Regions from separate parts of the Homo sapiens genome. Here all the other regions are linked to region 1. Evidence: fine-mapped expression QTL. A gene starts in region 1. Each other region holds a variant in brackets. All regions are shown on one strand. Distances are between the middles of the regions. Region 1 holds the start of KIF25 (kinesin family member 25). Region 2 overlaps FRMD1 (FERM domain containing 1). Region 3 overlaps KIF25 (kinesin family member 25). Region 4 overlaps AFDN (afadin, adherens junction formation factor).

Evidence for each region.
Region 2: its variant is fine-mapped to the expression of KIF25 in lung (TOPMed, PIP above 0.99).
Region 3: its variant is fine-mapped to the expression of KIF25 in lung (GTEx, PIP above 0.99).
Region 4: its variant is fine-mapped to the expression of KIF25 in cerebellar hemisphere (GTEx, PIP 0.95).

What each region holds. Positions count from the first base shown.
Region 1 is chr6:167,994,949-168,000,145 of GRCh38, reverse strand. KIF25 (kinesin family member 25) reads right to left here and starts at 2,475. Exons shown (of 13, transcript NM_030615.4): 1 at 1,276-2,475; 2 at 826-1,054. It overlaps KIF25-AS1 (KIF25 antisense RNA 1), which reads left to right and starts at 3,069. Exons shown (of 4, transcript NR_103750.1): 1 at 3,069-3,240; 2 at 3,545-3,908; 3 at 4,043-4,633.
Region 2 is chr6:168,047,978-168,053,174 of GRCh38, reverse strand. It overlaps FRMD1 (FERM domain containing 1), which reads left to right. Exons shown (of 11, transcript NM_024919.6): 11 at 1-80. Among named protein-coding and RNA genes, the nearest start is that of FRMD1, 29 kb to the left of the region's middle. RefSeq lists an enhancer at 4,259-4,758. The variant T/C (reference allele first, on the strand shown) is at 2,354.
Region 3 is chr6:168,023,342-168,028,538 of GRCh38, reverse strand. The region is part of intron 5 of KIF25 (kinesin family member 25); the gene reads right to left. Among named protein-coding and RNA genes, the nearest start is that of KIF25, 28 kb to the right of the region's middle. RefSeq lists a silencer at 3,002-3,180. The variant G/A (reference allele first, on the strand shown) is at 2,073.
Region 4 is chr6:167,953,990-167,958,989 of GRCh38, reverse strand. All of the region lies in intron 30 of AFDN (afadin, adherens junction formation factor), which reads right to left. Among named protein-coding and RNA genes, the nearest start is that of HGC6.3, 23 kb to the left of the region's middle. The variant T/C (reference allele first, on the strand shown) is at 3,031.

The DNA.
Region 1 (5,197 bases):
GAGTGGGGAGGGTCAGGTGTAGACAGGATGGGAGTGGGGAGGGTCAGGTGTGGTCAGGATGGGAGTGGGAGGGTCAGGTGTGGTCAGGATGGGAGTGGGGAGGGTCAGGTGTAGACAGGATGGAAGTGGGGAGGGTCAGGTGTGGTCAGGATGGGAGTGGGGAGGGTCAGGTGTGGTCAGGATGGGAGTGGGGAGGGTCAGGTGTGGTCAGGATGGGAGTGGGGAGGGTCAGGTGTGGTCAGGATGGGAGTGGGGATTTCCAGGGGGTTTGTTTCATGGGGAAGGAAGTAAGTCATATTGAGTATGGTTTTCAAGTAAGCATTTGAGTAAATGAACTTCAGATAATTTTGCTGTATCCATGAATACCATCAAAACTTTCTCTAAGTCAAAAGTATCAGTTGAGTCAATACTCACTGACTGCCTGCATGGCGGAGTGGGTGGTCTTTGGGGTTCATAAAGGCAGGGTGCTCCCTTTTTGATATAGTGACATAAAGGGAAAAGTCCATTCAAAGCCTGTCCCTGTTCGGTCGGACCCCGCAGAGGCAAACCACGAAAAGACGGACGCCCTCTCAGGTGCAGAACCACTACCACGCACGAGAGGCCTGCTCAGGCAGTTTGGCCTTTTGCAGGCCGTATTACAGAGGGCTGCAGAGTGTCCACTGTCAGCAAGACAGCGCCATCCTTAAACAGAGCCCCCACCCACAACTCGAGAATGTCCTGCTTTGGGACCGGGGACAGGACAGTAGACGGCATTTAAAATTGTGCCACTCCTCTGTCTTTTCCCTGAGCACACAGACATACACACACCGTGCAAACACAGGTTACCTGCTCTGCAAAACTGGATCGTCGGATTCACTATCAAAAGGCAACAAAGGACGAATCCGACAGTGAACTCTGATATTTCGTTTCAGCTCCTGCAATGATCAAGAGGTCTGCGTGTCAACCCGGGCGCGAGCCTGCACTGCGGAGCATCCCCCACTGAACGTGCACCGGGCACCAGCTCCTGAGACGCGGCCGTGAGATCTGCAGCACCTGTCTCCACTTCGAAAGACCCCTGCAGGGTAGTGAACAGTTATTTTATTTATTTATTTTTTGAGCCAGAGTCTTGCTCTGTCGCCCAGGCTGGAGTGCAGTGATGCAATCTCAGCTCACTGCGACCTCCGCCTCCCAGGTTCAAGTGATTCTCCTGCCTCAGCCCCCAGAGTAGCTGGGATGACAGGTGCCCACCACCACGCCCAGCTAATTTTTGTATTTTTAGTACAGAAGGGTTTTTACCATGTTGGCCAAGCTGGTCTCGAACTCCTGACCTCAGGTAATGCGCCCGCCTCGGCCTCCCAAAGTTCTGGGATTATAGGCATGAGCCACCGTGCCCGGCCATGAACAGTTATTTTAAACTTCTGGATTCATACTTCACAAATGTGTTCACTTGGCAAAGGGGTATCCCTTGGTAATAAGTACCAAGGAAAATCCCTTTGAATGGCATCCTGGGCTCGACATTTTAGGCATTTTAGAGGGGATTTTGGAAATTCAGTATCTGTCATATTTCCTTGATTTAATGACTGGAAGGAAATTAGAAGCTTTTTATTCTCATAAACTCCACTGGTTTCCAGTGAGCAACACATCTTCTCCGTATGTGCTCAGAACTTGCCAAATCCATTCTGAAATCTTGTCTTGGATCCACAGCAAGTTTATCCACCCTGTCATGCTGAGCAGCTCCTTCTACATTTTGAAAACCAAGTGGGTGTCATAGGCCAATGATTTACAGCCTCCGTCTGGTCTCTATGAACCCACAGAAGCTGGGATCAGCCTCTGCCTGCATATTCTCCATGGGCCGCGCACTGCACGCTCCTCAGCTAGACCAGGAGACCAGGCTTGAGGTGGAACACTCAGAAACTTCCACAACCAATTCTTCCTTGTGGGACTTGACTCCATCTTAGGAAGGTTCATATTATCTTTTTCATGCTCCAGATTAAAAAAAAAAAAAGCTGCAGCGTAGTGAGACTTTCTGAAGTGCCAGGTGCTTCACTGATATCTCCCTTTGTCTTTATAGCAACCCAGAGAGGTGGTGCTATTGTGAAGATTAAATAAGAAAATACACCAAATGGTTTCAAAAGTACTTGGTACACAGGAAGCACTCAATAAATGTTCTCTTATATCAATGTTTGGAGCACTGAACTACATAAGTAGATGCTTAAAATGAGAATTATTCTTTGACACATCTAACAGCTGGAGAACCTCTCGGCATGGCCAGGGAAGAGAAGCTTCGCAGGAACACTGGCTTCGTGGGCCTCGGGCAGGTGGAATTCGGAGAAACTGGCCAAAGTGCAACCATCAAAATCAAACCTCACAGAAGCGAGGGTCACCCACTCAATCATCCACCTTGGCATCCTCGTGTTGCAAAATCAAACCCTGAGACTTTACATTAAATTTCATGGGATCTCAGGTCTCATACCTTCGACCAAGAAAGCACGAGAGCCTCTGGGTCTTGTTAATGGGCAGTGAGAGACGTGGGTGGAAGGTGCTGGTGAGGAAGGGGCAGGGGCAGGGGCAGGGGCAGTCTCCACCGGCATCTCCAGTTACAGCAAAATCCTTGCTTTTCCCGCGCAAGTCCCCATCTCTGCAGATTCCCCCGCCCCCCATCTCTGCAGATTCCCCCGCCCCCCATCTCTGCAGATTCCCCCGACCCCCCATCTCTGCAGATTCCCCCGCCCCCCATCTCTGCAGATTCCCCCGCCCCCCATCTCTGCAGATTCCCCCGCCCCCCATCTCTGCAGATTCCCCCGCCCCCATCTCTGCAGATTCCCCCGCCCCCATCTCTGCAGATTCCCCCGCCCCCACCTCTGCAGATTCCCCCGACCCCCCATCTCTGCAGATTCCCCCGCCCCCCATCTCTGCAGATTCCCCCGACCCCCCATCTCTGCAGATTCCCCCGCCCCCCATCTCTGCAGATTCCCCCGCCCCCATCTCTGCAGATTCCCCCGCCCCCATCTCTGCAGATTCCCCCGCCCCCAACTGCCCGCTACAGCTCTTTCCTTGTGCCTCACAGCAGCCGGTCCCACTTCCTGCATCGCCACCAATGTGGCCCAGGCCACCAGCCCCCGTGACACTGCAGCCATCCCCTTTGCTCCCCGTCGTGGCCTCCCGACCGAGCAGCCAGAGTGACCCCGAAAGCCTAAATCAGCCTGCGGCGCCCTCACCCGTCCTCCAGCTGCCATCGCCTCCTGGGTGAAGAGGACGCAGGTCGCAGCCCCCGCAGCTCTGCCCCTCTGCCCTCCGGCCAGGCCGCCCCGCTGTCCCCCTTGCTGTCCACCTCTCTGTCCACCCCTGCTGTCCCCCCCCGCTGTCCCCCCCGCTGTCACACCCCCGCTGTCCCCCCCCCGCTGTCCCCCCTGTTGTCCCCCCGCTGTCCCTCCCGCTGTCCCTCCGGCGAGGAGGCTTCTGCACGTTCTGCGTGGGCCTCTCCCCGGGGCCGCCCCAGGTCTCCCCTGACGCCCACACCCACCACCAGGCTGTTGTGCGGGACCTTCCTTCTCTGCCTCTCCAGCTGGTGACGCGCACTGACGTCCTGCAAGGCCCGCTCCAGGTGCGCCACCTTTGACTGGCATGCTGAAAGGACAAAGGGACGGAGGCATTTTACCGGAGAGGACATCCATGGGGCCCAGCAGGTCAAATTCCTTTCTCTAAGTATGGGAGACATTTTTAAAAATAATGGAGTCCTCCAGGGCCGGCTGCGTGCTGTGGCCTGTGCTCCTCACTGCTTTGGACCCAGGCTGCGCTGTCTCCACCACGACCAAGGACTCACAGAGCTCGCCTGGGGGACCTGGCCCCACAGTCACCCCGTCCGTCATCAGCCTCAAATGCCATCAGCCCGTGAATGCTGCTCCATCGTCTGCATGGCAGCCAAGGAGGTCTCTGCTCCTAAAGCACCTGGGAGCCCTTGGTGAGGGGGGAGTGGGGCAGGGAAGGAGATGCTGGGGCCCAGCTCTGCTGCTGTGGATTGTTACAGTGGCCTGGGCCTCTACTCCCGCCTCTGTCCTACCAGGATGGTGCCAGGTGATGTGGCGATGAGTGGGCATCGCGTGGGGGCCTTGGACGAGCGTGGACACCCCAATCCCCAGACTGGCCATTGCCGTGGAGGCAGCGTGAGTGTGACATGGAGCTCGGTGTCGTGCTGCAGAGGACGCCTCGCGGCTGTACGCGTCATGATAGCCAGGGACCCCTCCACATGTCACTTAGCCAAAGGATGCAGCCCAGCCTGGGGCTTTCTACCCCAGGCCCGAGGACCTGCAGGGACAAGGACCCCTCAGCGCAGATGCAGCTCTCATGAGGCCTGAAACCAAGCTGGACTTGCAGAACTGCGCACGCTCCCTTTCTGAAAGAAACACCCGTTACCGGGTCCAGACTGAATGTGGGCGTAAGAAAGCGGGAAGGGTCCCCCACAGCAAGAGAGAGACCCTCCCAGTCACTTGGTCATCTGAGCCTTGAGTGTGTCCGGCCCCAGCCACCAGCCTGTCCCCACTATCCCTCTTGTCAGCACGGCTGAAAGGAGCTGCCTGGGCACCTGAGGTGGCTGAGGCTCATCTTTGAGGAGCATGGAACTCGAGGGGAGAAGTCGCGCCCCCAGGGAAGCCAGGTAAGGAGGCCCCGAGCCCCTGAGCCTAACGCCTGGGCACAAATAAGCCGCCTGGGGACCCCTCTGTGTGGCAGGACTGCACCGTGGCTCCCACAGGCAGGGCCTCAGCAGGCCCTGCCTCCTCACACGTCAGCATTCCCTCTGCGGGAGAGCCTTGGCGGCTCCCTGCTTCTCCCTTTGAGTTTCACCTTTTCAAAGCTTAAGTACACTGCTTTTCACAAAATAACATGATTGTCCCTTTCCCTGGAGCACATGGCTTATAAGAACACAGGCGTTGCCGGCTGTGGTGGCTCGTGCCTGTAATCCCAGCACTTTGGGAGGCTGAGGCGGGCAGATCACCCGAGGTCAGGAGTTCGAGACCAGCCTGGCCAACATGGTAAAACCCCATCTCTACTAAAAATACAAAATTAGCCAGGCGTGGTGGCAGGCGCCTATAATCCCAGCTACTCGGGAGGCTGAGGTGGGAGAATAGCTTGAATCCAGGAGGCAGATGTTGCAGTGAGCTGAGATGGCGCCACTGCACTCCAGCCTGGGCGACAGAGTGAGATTCTGTCCCCCGCCGCC
Region 2 (5,197 bases), 53 kb before region 1:
GGTGAACACGCAGTGGGGAAAATGGCGCGGGTTAATTGTTTATTAATCACAGGCAGCTCACCAATAAAACCGTCACCAAATATTGTGTTACTGTGTTTTTCAGCTTTTTAAACTTTGTGATGTGGTGGTTTTTTAATGTTTCTGTATTTAGATTTATTTTCATACTTTAGAATTTGTAATCTTATCTTTTGCCCTGAAGGAGGGCTCCCCATCACCATCTAACCATGGAAGTTTCAGGCCTCAAAACGGGGCCCAGGGTGAGGACTCCTCTGATCTCAGAACCTTGGGTCACACAGCGGCTGCCATTCCCTGCTCACATCCCCTGGCTACGGATGAGGCCCCCGGGCCACTGGGCACAGGCTGGGGCTCCCTCCCGGCTCGCCGCCGGCCCATGCCTGGTTCTCCAGCCGCCCCAGGGTGGCAGTGTTCATCCTGAGTCCCCTCCTGGCTCTGCCCTGGCATCTGTGCTCAGGTGACCAGCCAGGCCTCCCGCTGGCAGGGGTGTGGTTCTCTCCATTCAGCCACTGCTGCTGTCACAAACCAGTGCACGCAGCAGGAACTGGACGTCACCGTCACCAAGTGGGGACCTGTTCGCCGCACCCTCTGTTGTCTGTCCTTGGACATCAGGGCCATTGTCCGCCCACAGCCCTGGACATCCACGCTGTTGGGGCGGCGGCAGGGCCTGGCGCAGTGGGAGAAGAGGAAGAAGCATGTCCTCAGAGCCAGATGCAGGAGTGTGCCCTGTGGGGTGCGGGCCAGGCTCCCTCCTGAGCGGACATGGGAACACGTAACAGTGGGAACAGGCCGGCCTCCAATGGGGGCCTCTGCAGGAGGTGGGCTGGGAGGAGGACGCGCCTCAGGAGCCTCCGGGATGCTCTTTATGGCCAGGCACGGTGCTTCACACCTGTAATCTCAACACTTTGGGAGGCCAAGGTGAGCGGATCACTTGAGACCAGGAGTTTGAGACCAGCCTGGGCAACCTGGCAAAACCCCATCTCTACAAAAAATATAGAAATAAAATTAGCCGGGCATGGTGGCGCCTGTGGTCCCAGCTACTCGGGAGGCTGAGGTGGGAGAATCACTTGAGCCCAGGAGGTCAAGGCTGCAGTGAGCTGAGATCATGCCACTGCACTGCAGCCTGGGCGATGCAGCAAGACCCTGTCTCAAAAAAAAAACCAAAATGCTCTTTGTTCTCTGAGGAAGGGGCTGCCCAGCAGAAGGTGGTGGGAGGGCATGAGGCTTTGGCAGCCCTGACAGTGCATGGGTGGAGTGCCCACCTGTGGGCTGGGGTGCAGGTCTGGGAGGCCGGCACTGTCCCCCTCGGTGGCAGGTGTGTGAAGTGAGGCATCCAGTGGGGGTCCGGGGCCGCCTCCCCGCAGCCTGTCCTTGTGTTTTGCTTCTCACATGTGATTCCTGGGAGCAGGTGCCCTGGGCTCCCAGAGAGGCTGCAGGACACACACCAGCCCCGGCGTGTCCACTGCACTGTGTCTTCCCTCTGGTCACTACAACAGATCTTCATAGGCCGTGTGGCCTCACTCTGCCCACTCCTCATGATTCTGGAGGCTGGAAGTCCAGGATCGAGGTGCCGGCCAGTTCCATTCCTGGTCCAGGCCCCCTCCCTGGCCGCTACGTCTTCTCAGGGCGGAAGGGGCTTGCGAGCTCCCAGGGCCCCCCTTACAAAGGCACTAATCCCACCCGTGAGCCTCCATCCTCACAACCTCACCGGCTCCCACAGGCACCCCCTCCTAACACCATGGCCTTGCTGGTGAGGATTCCCACACAGACGTCGGGGGGCGCACTCAGCCCACCCTGCATTACACGCTGGGACACATCCGGCTCATCAGTCTCCATCCCGGTCTTGGGATCTTCAAGGCAGGAGCCTCCGGCCTTGACTGCAGTTTCCTCGGTGCCAAAGCAAGACCCCGGTACAGGAGGCAGCCAATAAATGGGCACAGAACAGGTGAAAGAGGGAGGGAGGGCCAGCGGATTGGTGCTCTGTGCACCTCAGTGGGCAGGGCTGGCTTGCTCTGGCTGTGCTAACTGTATACACCTCCTTGTCCACCCAGGCTGAGCCACAGTCCACATGGCTGTGATGGAGCTGAAGCCCCTGCTGAGGGGCAGCTGGCGTCCGGCCACGCCCACCCCACATTGTTCTGGCCCCCCCCACCCCATCCCGGGGCTTGCCCGAGGAGCATGGCTGAAACTACAGAACGTCCCTAGCACTTCAGGGAAACAGATGTAAAATATCCGTGGGTTTTGGCCAAGCTCCACCAAGAAAGGAGAAGGTCCAGGGAGTTATGAGACCCCCAGGGCGTCGGTCACCCAGGTCCTGCCCACTGGGCTAACAGCTCAC[T/C]GGCCTCCCACAGCAACACCCCCAGGGTCAACATTCCACCACCTCGGTCTCCACAAATGAGGTGTCTTCCATTTCTGCTAACTAAGCAAAGTCAGCGACTGGATTACAAGTTCCCAGGCCCAGGGCCTTGGCCACGGCAAGGCTGCTGGGCTCACACTGTGCTGAGGAGGCCACGGCTGCCCCAGCCACACATGGGCCCCCGGCTTGCCCTCCGTGCGCTCCTCCTGCCTCCTCCGACCGCTGCTCTTTCCCCGAGTATCAGGGCTGGGCCAGGCTGTTCTCGAAGTGAGGTCTGCAGTTAATTCGGATTGTGAGACGAGCCTGGTCCCAGACAGTCCTGAGGGAGCATCCAGGGCCGCAAGCCTCACTGCACGGCCTCCCACCACTCCCCAGGGCCTGTTCCTGGCTACGGGGGAGGGGCACAGGCAGCCTGCGGAGGAAAGAGCAGGCAAGAGAGATCTGGGGGAGCCAGGCGTCCCCCCCATATCTGGCCCCCTCCTGCCTCACACTAAACGATGGCCAGGGCGGGACTCTGGGCACGCAGGGACCTCCGGCGAGTACCAACAGGCCCGGGGGCTGGTGTCTGTGACGCTCTAGGACGGCAGCGTGCGCCCCTCACAGGGTAATTATAGTACAGATCACTCGGTCCGGCACAGGCAGACACTTTGTCATTCCCCCTTTGCCACTGTGGACCCTTCAGGCCTCTGCACAGAGGCCGCCCCCGCAGGGAAGCCACCCCGGACCCCGAGATGGGGCCGGGCCCCTGTGGTTCCGCTCTAACAGGCGCCTGTCGCAGCTCTCACACCCTGGGTGGCTGTGGTGTCTTCTGTCCTCCCCATTTGGGCTGTATTCCCCGCACAGTCTCCACGTGCCACCTAAACCTCTGCTGAGTGTTTCCTCCCACAGATCACTGGCAAATCTCTTCAAAACCAGCGGCCTCTGACCCGCTACAAGCTGAAGAGGACAGGGTGTTTCATTCCAGCCTTGCAGTGTCCTCTGGACGAAACCGCATTTGGCACCCAGAGCTGCCCCAGCCCTGGGCCCTGGGCCCCCACCCCACCCCACCCCCACCCTGGCCCCCGGCAATCTTCCCTCCTCGGGGCCTGGGCTCCTTCCCTTCCTCCTCTCCTCTCCTGAGCCTGCCCATGTCACAGGTTCTGTGGCCAAACGGCCTGAGGGAGGCAAGGAGGGGGTGCTGTCCAGGTTCAAGGCGCCCCTCCAAATATGCCTCGTCCAGCTGTGAAGCTCCCAGACATGTCAGCCCTGGGAACATAAACCTCGCACCAGAGTCACGCACTCACCCCATAAGGCGGCTCTCGTGCATGAACAATTGTGCCGTAGGTCAGCGCTGGGGAGGTCTGGTTGTGCTCAGTTTGAGGAAGCCACGAGTGTTTCTGGAGATGCATTTCTCCGTGGCGCTGGGACTGCCCTCCAAAGGTCCACGTCTGTGAGAGAAGGAGCCGGACCACGACTGAGGGGCAGACGCTCCTTCCCGCCCACTCACAGGCGCTGCGAGTCAGTAAGTACGTGGACTTCCACAGCCTCAGCGTCCTTGCTTTTCAAATGGGTTGATCCTAAACACCTTCAGAGGCCCTGAGCCAAGAGGAAGAAGCTAATGAACATGAAGATAGTAACCCCAGAGCAGAGCTGTTAATTGATGGGACGTCTTTGAGTTTTAGTCACTGACTAGTTTTGGGTTTTTTTTCTGTATGTTTCCTGGGTCCGTCCCTCCCTCTCCCTTCTTAGGGGCAGCGTGTCAGCACCACGGTGATGGGCCACTGAAATCACTGGTGGTGGCCAGCGGTGGGGTGAGTGCCTGCAGCCCCACACCCTGGAGACTGGGCTGGTTTGCTCTGAAACCCTGGCACTCTGGGTGTGGCCAAGTGGACCAGGGTGAAGACTGGGCCCAGGCTTCCTTCTAGGAAATGAGGAGTTGGGAGTGAGAGGCAGACGAAAACCTGGGAAGCGAGGACTCAGCTGCACGCCCTGTGATGGGGCAGAGGGTTCCAGTCTGCAGCGTGGGGGCGTCGAGGGTGGCAGGCAGTGGGGTCCGGTGCCTGGGGCCCAAGCGCCCCCCACGCCCACTGCCCCAACTCCCAGTCTCTGTAGACGCCCTTGCTCTAGGCTGTGACTGGCAGGTTCCTGAGTCACTCGCGCCTCTGCCATCCCGCGTAGAGGCTGGCCAGAGCCGGTCCAACACTTCCCCAGAGGGAAGCTCTGCCATTTTCACACGGTGCCCGTCTCGGGGCACCACTGTGGGCCCCACGCAGCTGTGGGGCGAGGCGTCCACGCATCCTCTACAAAGGCAGCTTGGTTATCACAACGCCGGCCTTGCTCAGAGAGGAACTTCATCAAACACACAAAGAAGGCTTGTCGAGTGTCACGCGGCTCAGCCAGGCTGTCCCTTCGGTCACGCTATGGCAGCAGCTCGGGCCCTTCAAGGTCAGAAGGAGGACGGCAGGGCCTGGCGGCAGTTGTTGCTTGGCACTGCTGTTCAGTGCGGGCTCCACAGAGAAGCTTCCATCTCACCAGAGCTGCCACCTCCTGAGTCCATCATTTGTGCGTTGGTGTCTCTGTCCTACTAAAGGAACTTCGCACCTCAGCAAGCCGGTGAGGGGCTTCCTGAGCCAGGGGCATCTGCCTGCCTAAGGGCCAACCCTAAAGAGAAGTTTGATTTTATTTTGGGCACTGAGGGAGCATCTCAGAACCTGTGGGGTCATTCAAGTCATCACAATGATGAGGGGACACAAGTGACATTGAGCAGACAGGCACCAAGGACGCCAGGTCCCCATAAGGCACAGGACACTCCCACCCAGCAAATACTGTCCCGGGGGCCACGTGGCT
Region 3 (5,197 bases), 28 kb before region 1:
AACTGGGATGGGACGGGCTCAGACACTGGAACCTTCTCTGAGACTCTATCTATGACAGCTTGGTCTTGCTGCGTGAATTAGTAAGTAGGCCGAAGGAAGACAGATACAACTCCATGTGGCAACGGGCTGTCAGATAAAGGGGCATCTCAGGTCAGTGGGGAGAGAGGTGTTTTAATAAGTGGTGTTACAGGCCGGGCACGATGGCTCACGCCTGTAATCCTAGCACTTTGGGAGGCCAAGGTGGACAGATCATTTGAGCCCAAGAGTTTGAGACCAGCCTGGGCAACGGGCAAAACTCCATCTCTATATCCTTTTTTTAAATAAATAAATTTTAAAATATTATTTTTAATTAATATTTTAAAAAATAAGTGGCGTTGCAGTAAATGAATAGATATAAAAAGATAAAATGGGGTCAATTCTTTATAAAATGGACTAGGACACATTCCCAACAGACCACGAGTTTAATGAAAACCACCCGGCCATGCGTGTCCCAGCAGAGTCCACAGGGGGGTTCTTCTGGAACCTGGCAGCCTTTTTACCTACGATCATGTAAACATGTTCGTGTGGCTCAAAGACACCAGAAGCAAACGACAGACTGAGAAAGTAGCGGCGGCTTAAATATTTCTGTTCTATCAAGTGCTCCTAGAGATAGAGAAGGGAAAGGTCAGTCCTTGTAGAGAAGTGAAGAATGCACAGAAAAAAAGATGCGAATGTCAGAAGCACACGAAAAGACTCAACTTCGCTCTGAAGAGACGCGACACAGAGAACCCGTTTCTCACCCACGGACCGGAACAACCCATGCATCTGACCTCGTGCTCCGTGGGGATGTGGAGGGAAGCCGGCCTTGCCCACGCGGCTGTCCGGGGAGGAGGGGCGGTCCCGGTGCCAGTGGGAAGCTGGCCCTGGGACCTGGCACCCCCAGCACCCACCTCCCACAGTCATGTCCAGCCACACCCAAGGCTCCTGTGCTTGGACCCTGTCATTCTCATTCTTTTTCTTCATAACTTTGACCATTTTCCCCCCAACCTGGAATCTCCTTTCCCTTTTTCTTTCTCTCTCTCTCTTTTTTTTTTTTTTTTTTTTTGGAGACAGAGTCTTGCTCTGTCGCCCAGGCTGGAGTGCAATGGCCCAATCTCAGCTCACTGCAACCTCTGTCTCCTTGGTTCAATCGATTCTCCCTGCCTCAGCCTCTCAAGTAGCTGGGACTACAGGTGTGTGCCACCACGTCCAGCTAATTTTTTGTATTTTAGTGGAGACGGGATTTCACCATGTTGCCCAGGGTGGTCTCGAACTCCTGAGTTCAGGCAATCTGCCCGCCTCTGCCTCCCAAAGTGCTAGGATTACAGGCGTGAGCCACCACCCCCGGCCACCTTTCCCTTTTTCTATGCCTGGTTAACTCCTGGTTAGCTGAGCTGTCAAGCCCCAGGTCGAGGGCCTCCCCCATCTCTGCCTCCTGCCCCACTGCTGTGTTGGTGGCTTCTGAGCTCAGCGCAGCCTCCTGGGAACGGTCCCTACAGCTCTAGGTCTTGGTGGCAAAAATGCTGCCTTCCTCTCACCTACATCCCTTGTGTCTAACAGGGTGCCTGGCACATAATAGGTGCTCAGAAAAATGCTTGAACTTGAACGACTATAGAAATTTCACACAAATGTGTCAGTTAGGAATATCACATTGTAAATTCCTGTTCTACAAGAATACAGCCAGCAGTCCTTCAGCTTCCTGATAAATGAATTCTTCTCAAAACAATGAACATGACTTATTCTTTTTCTCCTTGCATTTTGGATCAGTGGCATTACTTTTGGTTTGCCTTTTTTAAATAATATTTTTATTTCACTTAGAAAATAACCTTCTTCTTACCCTGGACCTATTAATATTTTTTCTGAATAGTAAAATTGAACTTTCCCCCTCATACAAATTTATTTTTAAAATAAGTTAAGGGCTGAAAGTGTTGGAATTTTTTTTAGAATGGAAATAAAATATTTTGACATTCGTTAGTTCCATAAAAAGCTGTTATAAAAACCAACAATGTTCTGATTTCATAAGAACCATATGCTCCACTGTTTATAAAAACACG[G/A]TGATCCTGAATGCTAAACAATATTACCCCAGAATGAATTCTTGCAGAGATTTATATTTAAAGTCTCCCCTAACTCTATAGATAGACAGCAAGTTGCACAAATTCTTCCATTTTTCTGTTCACTTCTAACAGCACAATTTTGATGTTTCCCTTCGACCCTCAGCGTATTCATATTGAGACAGGGCCCTCTGAGAAGACACGTGTCGGCATGAACTGTGCTGCTCCACTTCCTTCTTCCCCAAAACAAGGTCACACGATCCCCGAGGGTGGTTTCCCCACCACAGTGCCCTTGCCTGTGCTTCTCCACTGACCTGAGCAGCAGCCTGGTGTAACCCAAAGACTGAGACCTTCTGCCCAAATCCAACGCTTACTAAAAGCCATCGTTTAACTAGACTGGGCGGTGGTGCCCCCCGCAGCTTCCTCTTCAGGTCCTCCTGGGACGACCAACGGCCTGAAAGTACTTGGAGACTGCCAAGGGCTACGTGTAGGTGACGTATGTAACTAAACTCCACCCAGCTCAAGCTCTAGCCACTCTGTGACTCTCTTGCCCACAGGAATTTCTCTGTCACTCAGTACTCGGCCGCACACTCTGTGGGACTCTGGCTGCTTTGCGGTGATGACCGATACCCACAGCCTGTGTGTAAGCCGCGTGGGGAAAGGATCATACTTTAAACTTTTTATTCCTAATCCGACCCTACTTTATTCCTTCTCAGCAGCTCTGTGCTAAGCACCCGAAGGTGCGCATTGAATCCTTCAGCACTTTAACCGAAGGGTGCATTTGGCTCTAAACATTCAGCCCAATCCTTTATCAATAGGCCACGTGCTTCCTTAAGCTGGCGCTGTTTACTTCCCAAGTCAAGTCTAGGGTGTGTAACAGTAAACTGCAAGGATTGGAGGTGGGGTCGGGAGGAAGGAAAAAGCTTTTACCACAATGTATCTACCACCGACACCAGCTGACACGGTTCAGCCATCATCCAGCAAGCCACGATTTTAAACACAATTTAAATGAAATGCTCATTTATTGGGATGCAAGGTAAGACCTTGTCCCCAGCCCCGCGGGGCTCGTGTTCCAGTTGGGAAGACGATAGTAGAAGCAGATACTATAATGTGCCAAACACTATTCCAAGAGATGAAGCAGGAGCGGGAAATGAGAAGTTGGAGCAGCGGCCTCCAACCGAGGGACACAGGGAAACTGAGAAGAATTCATCACGAAGGAGACATTCCCCAGCCACACCCCCAGGTCCTTCATCAGTGAGCGTCCCCGCGTCTCTGATGAGTCTCTGTCCTTTGTTGGGATGCCTGTCCCACCTAAACCTCCAGAGCTGAGTCCAGGCTCAAGGCCTCTTCCCCAGAGGTGCTTCCCTCATTAACCCTGTTCCATTCCAAACATTCCTTTCTTTCTTTTTCGTTTTTTTGAAGACAGAATCTCACTCTGTCGTCCAGACTGGAGTGCAGTGGCACATTCTCGGCTCACTGCAACCTCTGCCTCCCGGGTTCATGCGATTCTCCTGCCTCAGCCTCCCGAGTAGCTGGGACTATAGGCGTGTGCCACCACGCCCAGCTAATTTTTGTATTTTTAGTAGAGATGAGGTTTCACCATGTTGACCAGGCTGGTCTCGAACTCCTGACCTCAGGTGATCCACCCACCTAGACCTCCCAAAGTGCTGGGATTACAGGCGTGAGCCACCGTGCCCAGCCAGCCAGGCTGGTCTTGAACTCCTGACCTCAGATGATCCACCCGCCTTGGCCTCCCAAGGTGCTGAGATTACAGGTGTGAGCCACCGTGCCCGGCCCCGAACATTCCTTTCTTCTCCATCCTTGGCCAATTATGTCACCTATTTTGATTGCTTCACCTTATTCTGCCAACGTTGATATTACTTATCATTGTAAAGATCTCCCAAGCCTCCCATCCCAAGCCTAGTTCTCAACTAGGGTATAAACTCCTGGAAGGAGTCAGGCCAACCCCATTTCCCTCCTTACCTAGCCCAACACCAGATTACTCTGAAGCACAGTAAAAAAAAAAAAAAAAAAAAAAAAAAAAAAGAGAGAGGTTTTTACTAAGATTATTCCCCTGCATAATTGAGTCATCAAAAGAGGACAAAATCAATAGTGGAAGAAAGGTCAGCCCAGTGAAGGATTGTAAAAAAAACTGTGTGTCACGAGGAAGCAAAGTTCCACAAGTGTTTGCATAAACAAACATGATGAAGCTAAGCCATGGGGCTATTACTCCAAAGTGCTCATAAATTTGCTTCTTTTCTACACTGATAAAAAGTATCATTTTTCTCTATACTGTTTTTAGTGCACAGACATGAGAAAAAGCTTTTGCACGTGAAGACTGGCTTTGCTCTTACAAATTAAATCCATTGAACCACCAGCACCGTGTATGGAAGTTTCTTCAGGAAGCTACTTTATTACATGTGAAACTGATGAAAATTTTCTTGAGTATTCATAGTGAGATTTTTAAATATGATTATTTTAGGGGAAAAAAATCAAGTTATTTGGTTTTAGATATACAAATAAAATGTTTTTCAGTAAATAATAAAAATGCATGAGACTATACAGATTCTAATATTATTGCAATCCTTGAGTAGTAAAACACATTCTGCAAAGTGCACTGTCTCTGAAGCACCAGATCGCGACACATGGTGGCTAAGATACAACTCCCTTTCTCTCCCCTAACCAACATGTAAGTAATGCAGATAAAATAGAAACAAAATATGTTTTAAAATATGCTGCTGACGTTGAAGGGAAGAAAGAAAGGAAACTGGCTGGGCACGGTGGCTCACGCCTTTAATCCTAGCCCTTGGGAGGCTGAGGCGGATGGATTACTTGAGTTCAGGAGTTCAAGACCAGCCTGGCCAACATGGTGAAACCCGGTCTCTATTAGAAATACAAATATTAGCCAGCATGGTGGCTCACGCCTGTAATCTCAGCACTTTGGGAGACCAAGGTGGGCCGATCACTTGAGGTCAGGAGTTCAAGACCTGCTGGGCCAACATGGTGAAACCCTGTCTCTACTAAAAATACAAAAATTAGCCGGATGTGATGGTGCATGCCTGAAGTCTCAGCTACTTGGGAGGCTGAGGCAGGAGAATCGCTCGAACCCAGAAGGTGGAGCTTGCAGT
Region 4 (5,000 bases), 41 kb after region 1:
CCTTGAGTAAAACTGAGACTTCCTGAAGATGCACTGTGACTACACTGTGGCTCTGATATTCTGGGCAGGGCCCATTTTCATTCTAGAGGCACTCCAATTTGAATAGACAAAATACAGTCTGACTTCCCCCAGATAGATTTCTCTGAAGAAACAATTCTGAAATTAGGCTTCCTACTAATTCCTGCTTGAAATTTTTATAAGGCTTTTAATTCAACCCCTTCTATACCTGGGATGCTCAAGAGGGGCATGTCCAATTTCTACAGTTCCACGCAAAAACAAGCAAACAAAAACAAGAAAGCGGAAGAGGAGGGAAGACCTAGCTTGGGCTTTCATGTAAGGAAAGCAGCAGAACCACGGAACTCTTTGAAAACATCTTTTCACTGGTATTATTACCCCAAGGGGGAGGAATTTCTCCTGTGAGTTCTCATGTTTTCTGAGTCAGCAGATGATCCATTAAAACGTGTTAACAAGACAAACCTGAGCTTAGCCACTGAGAGATTTGTCAAACCAAGTAAATTTCGAGAAAATGGTTCCTGCCACTACAGTGTTACAAAAAGAGGCATTTTTGTGTCCTAGAAAGGGCACGTAATATGAATTCAGAAAACTCTCGTTAAAACCTTCACTCTCACCTGATCCATGTGATACAAAGCAGAGTATCCCTTATCCAAAATGCTTGGAACCAGAAGTGTTTCAAATTTTGGATTTTTTATTTTTGGACTATTTGCATATATGTAATGAGATTTCCTGGAAACAGGACCCAAGTCTAAATATGAATTGATTTCTGTTTCATATACACTATATATATAGCCTAAAGGTAATTTTATAACATATTTGAAATAATTTTGGACATAAAACGAAGCTTTGACTACAACCTCTCACTGAGGTCAGGTGTGGAATTTTCTACTTGTGGCATAATGTCGGTGCTCAAAGAGTTTTGGATTTTGGATTCTGAATTTTCAGATTAGGAATGTTCAACATGTACTGGCAAAGTCTCTCCCATGGTGGGTTTGGGGACCCTGGCTCTCACGTGCTCTGTGTGATACTGGGTCAATCTCTTCCATGCTGGCTTAGGCCCTTGTGCTCTGCCATAGAATAGCTTTGTCATGAGGAAATGAGAGGAATATATGCAGTTATGTGGCAACCTGGAGCAATGAAGGCACGAATCACACACCTTGTCATCAGGTGGAAGGACTAGCTACTTCTCGAGGCTGCAGCCAGGCAAAGCTGCAGCCACAGTCACGGCCACCTCCATGGTCCTAACTAACCGGCTACTCAAGTTAGAGACAGGTTCCAAGGCTAGGACAGAGTACTCTGCCAGGAGAAAGCAGACATCCTGACGAATTCCAGGTGTCCTGGATTTGCCCATGCGATATAAAGGAAAAGCCCTAACGACACAATGGGCTTCATCATAATCTAGTGCTGAAGGAGATCCCTCCAGCAAGTCAGACTTTGGTTTGAACATGACTTACACACCATCTCAGTCATTAAAATAGGAAACAACCTAGTAACAGCTTTACTCTTGAGATGCTAACAGTCAGGAAGGTCACACACCTTCGAGAGCTTGGGACCTTGGCCTGGAATCCGATCCCACTCACTCGACTGCCTACCACACTCCAGAACTCTTCTAGAAACTTGGACAAAGGTCACTGTTCCCATGGAGGTGGCGCTACCCAGAAGAGACAAACATGCCTAATGATGAGTAATGTGTATAGCATGTCCACAGAAAAACACACAGGACACAGTGAGGCCAGTGGGCCCCTGATACAAAGCAGCATGGGCAGGTGGGCCCCCCCCATATGAAGCAGTGGGGGCAGGTGGGCCCCCCCAGAAAGGTGGCATCTGAGAGACACCTGCATGTGCCAAGAGGGTCAGCCATGGAGACAGGCAGGGACCCTCCCGACGGCCCAACATGTGGAGGGTCACTAGAAGGCAGGCAGGCAGGCTGGAGGGCCAGTGGGCAAGGGTGTGAAGAGGAGATGAGACCCGAGCAAACTTAGACCGCCTGTCTAAGTGAAAGGAGAGACTTAGGAGGGCTGTGAGGACATTCTCGTGAGACTGCTGTATGCTATGTCAAGGCTGTCCTGTGAAGGGACTGGGGGACAGTACCGAGGGATCCTGCCAGTCTCTCGCAGTGACCCCGGCAGGAAAAGGAGAGAGGCTCTGGTCACGGGGGCACAGAGATTGGTCAGGTTGTGAGGAGGTCAAGCCAGTAGAGTTTCTGAACAGAGAAAAAAGGGGGTCATGCATGACTGTGAGGTTTCTTGCCTGAGCAACTCGAAGCATCAGCTGAAATGGGGAAGGCTGAAGGCAGAATGATGAGCAGTGCAAGGTGAGTGAAGCAGACAAAGATTTCACTTTGAGCATGCTGCATTCCAAAAGTCTTACTTGACTCCATGTGGAGATGTTACATGGGCAGGTGGATATCTGAGTCTTTAGTATGTGAGAAGTTTGGACTAGAAATCAAATGAGGATATTGCTGGCATCAAAGTGGTGCTACCGTCTCAGGTCGGAAGTGAGCACAGAGGATGGAGAAGGTAGGCCCTGGACTGACAGGGGTGATGGGTCACAAAGAGACCAGAGGGAAGAGCAGAAACGAGTGCAGGCAGCCTCCCAACTTTATGAAACTCAGCTGCTTCCAAACAGGAAAAGACCTGCCTCATTTCTCTAATTACCTACCTGAAAATCCTGTGATGTGTCTAAGAAAATATCTTAAGAACCATACTGGGTAGTGTCACTCCCTATATAGTCACATATTTGCCCTTATCCTTATTAAGGAGAGGGCTAATATCTTCACAGATGAGGGTCTCCTAGGGTAACCTGCCAATTCTTACATAAAAAGAATTCTATAGTTTTTTTTTTTTTTTTTTTTTTTTTTGAGCCAAAGTCTCGCTCTGTTCCCCAGGCTGGAGTGCAGTGGTGCAATCTCTGGTCACTGCAACCTCCACCTCCTGGGTTCGAGCAAGTGTCATGCCTCAGCCTCCTGAGTAGCTGGCATTACAGGTGCCCGCCACTGTGCCCAGCTAATTTTTG[T/C]ATTTTTAGTAGAGACGAGGTTTCACCATGTTGGTCAGGCTGGTCTTGAACTCCTGGCCTCAGGTGATTCACCTGCTCGGCCTCCCAAAGTGCTGGGATTACAGGCATGAACCACTGTGCCCACCCAAGAATTTTATAAATAATGAGGTGCTGTTAATAATATGTACTGGGGAACTGGGCTAAGAAATGCTCAGAAACATGTGGTTAAGATCAATATTAATACTCAAAATAATTATCTTCTAAAGAAAGAAACTCTCTGAATTATTTCTATGGAACAAAAACCTTATTGCAAGCATTATTTTACTGTTCATGTGTCACAGAATTCTTCATAGTATAAGAAACTCTCTTTGGGCCTGAGAGCTGGCTGGTATCTTCAATGCCTCAGGTCAGTGCCCACCGTGTCATGGATGCTGAGCAAGTATTTGCTGAATGAATATCTCACACTAAGGTGACTCTGATCAATATCTTCCAGCTACACTTATGTACATCAAAACACACAAAGAAGTAGGGAGAAAAATGTATAACTTTTAAATCTTTGTTTCATGTAAAAAAAAAAATGCAAAGCTCAGAAAATATGCCTTCCAATCACCAAGGAGGGAAGGTGTTTGTAAGAAAGGTTCCTCTCTAAGGTGTTATTACCGCTGTGCTAAACTGAGGGGGGAAGGAAAAGGGGACTATTATTTGGTGAAAAGGCCACTAAAGTCAAACCTTGATTCACAGGTTTTAAATGTACCGTCTGATATTGGCTTTTGTCTTTATAAGTTGACTAGAATTTGTCTTCAAGTTTATATAAATATATCAGAGTATAATTGTCTAGCAGGTGATAAAGATACCATACGCAAGCATAATGGGCCCTAAACGATGAGCCAAACTTCCCCAATATGACAATGAACACTTTGAATTTACAACAGACCATGAACCTCAAGTATTTTTCAGCAGACTGATAAATTGGCATGGCTGATAAACTGAATTAAAATCCATGTTATATTATTAAAGAAAACATAGAATACATGTTCACTGGAAATCTCTTACTCTACCAACAGACAGTTATATCTTAACTGGCAAATAATGTCAATACCCTTTCAGCTGAGTTTATAACAACTGAATATTTAAAATCTATGTCTAATGTGAAAAAAATGAAATAGATTACTCATTACAAAATTTATTTCATTTGCTCATGTATTTATGACTACGTAAGAATACACGGAATCAATTTATGACTGAAACCGAGAAAAGGTCAAAACCATAAACAAACAGTAACACTTAAAATTAACGGAGAAAAGCAAAGAGTAACTAAATCTAGGAACATTCAAAGGCATGCTTCTAAAGTGTCAGGGACTCCATCTCCTGATGGAGGACACCCCTAAGGAGAACTGGATCTACTGAAAACATCAAACAGCCACCACTGAAAGAAAAGAAAATCAAGACAGGAAAAAAGTACCAAAGGGAAAGAAACAAGAACATACCAAATCTAGAACAGAGATTGCTGGCATAGCAGTCTGCTGCAGGTAACAGAGAAAGAAAAAAAAAAAGAAAGATGAAGTGTGGAAAAAAAAGTTAGGTTTAGACCTGTAATCTGCCATCGGCATATTTTCTCACTATCATGCGTCATCTGTGTTTCGACAACTTGATGAGAAAGGTAAAGAACTACAGACTAACTTCTAGTATTCAGAAACAGAAAAATGCCCACATGGTATTAAATGAGTTTCATCATTAGGATACATAGAAAATAAAAAACAGCAAAATTTCCCTTAGCTTTCTTATTTGGAGACTAAGATACTAATTGTAACAGAACTACTAAGCAAAAAGCAAATATTTTTTACTAAATTTTCATAAGAAACTTTCCAAATATCGCAATTCATACTAAAAGGCTTTGAAATATTCAGTGTTTTAACCCATTTGGAAAAACTCTGAGAGACCTTTAAATAAAAGTTTAGTCCTCACAGAAAAAGATACTTACAGAAATACTA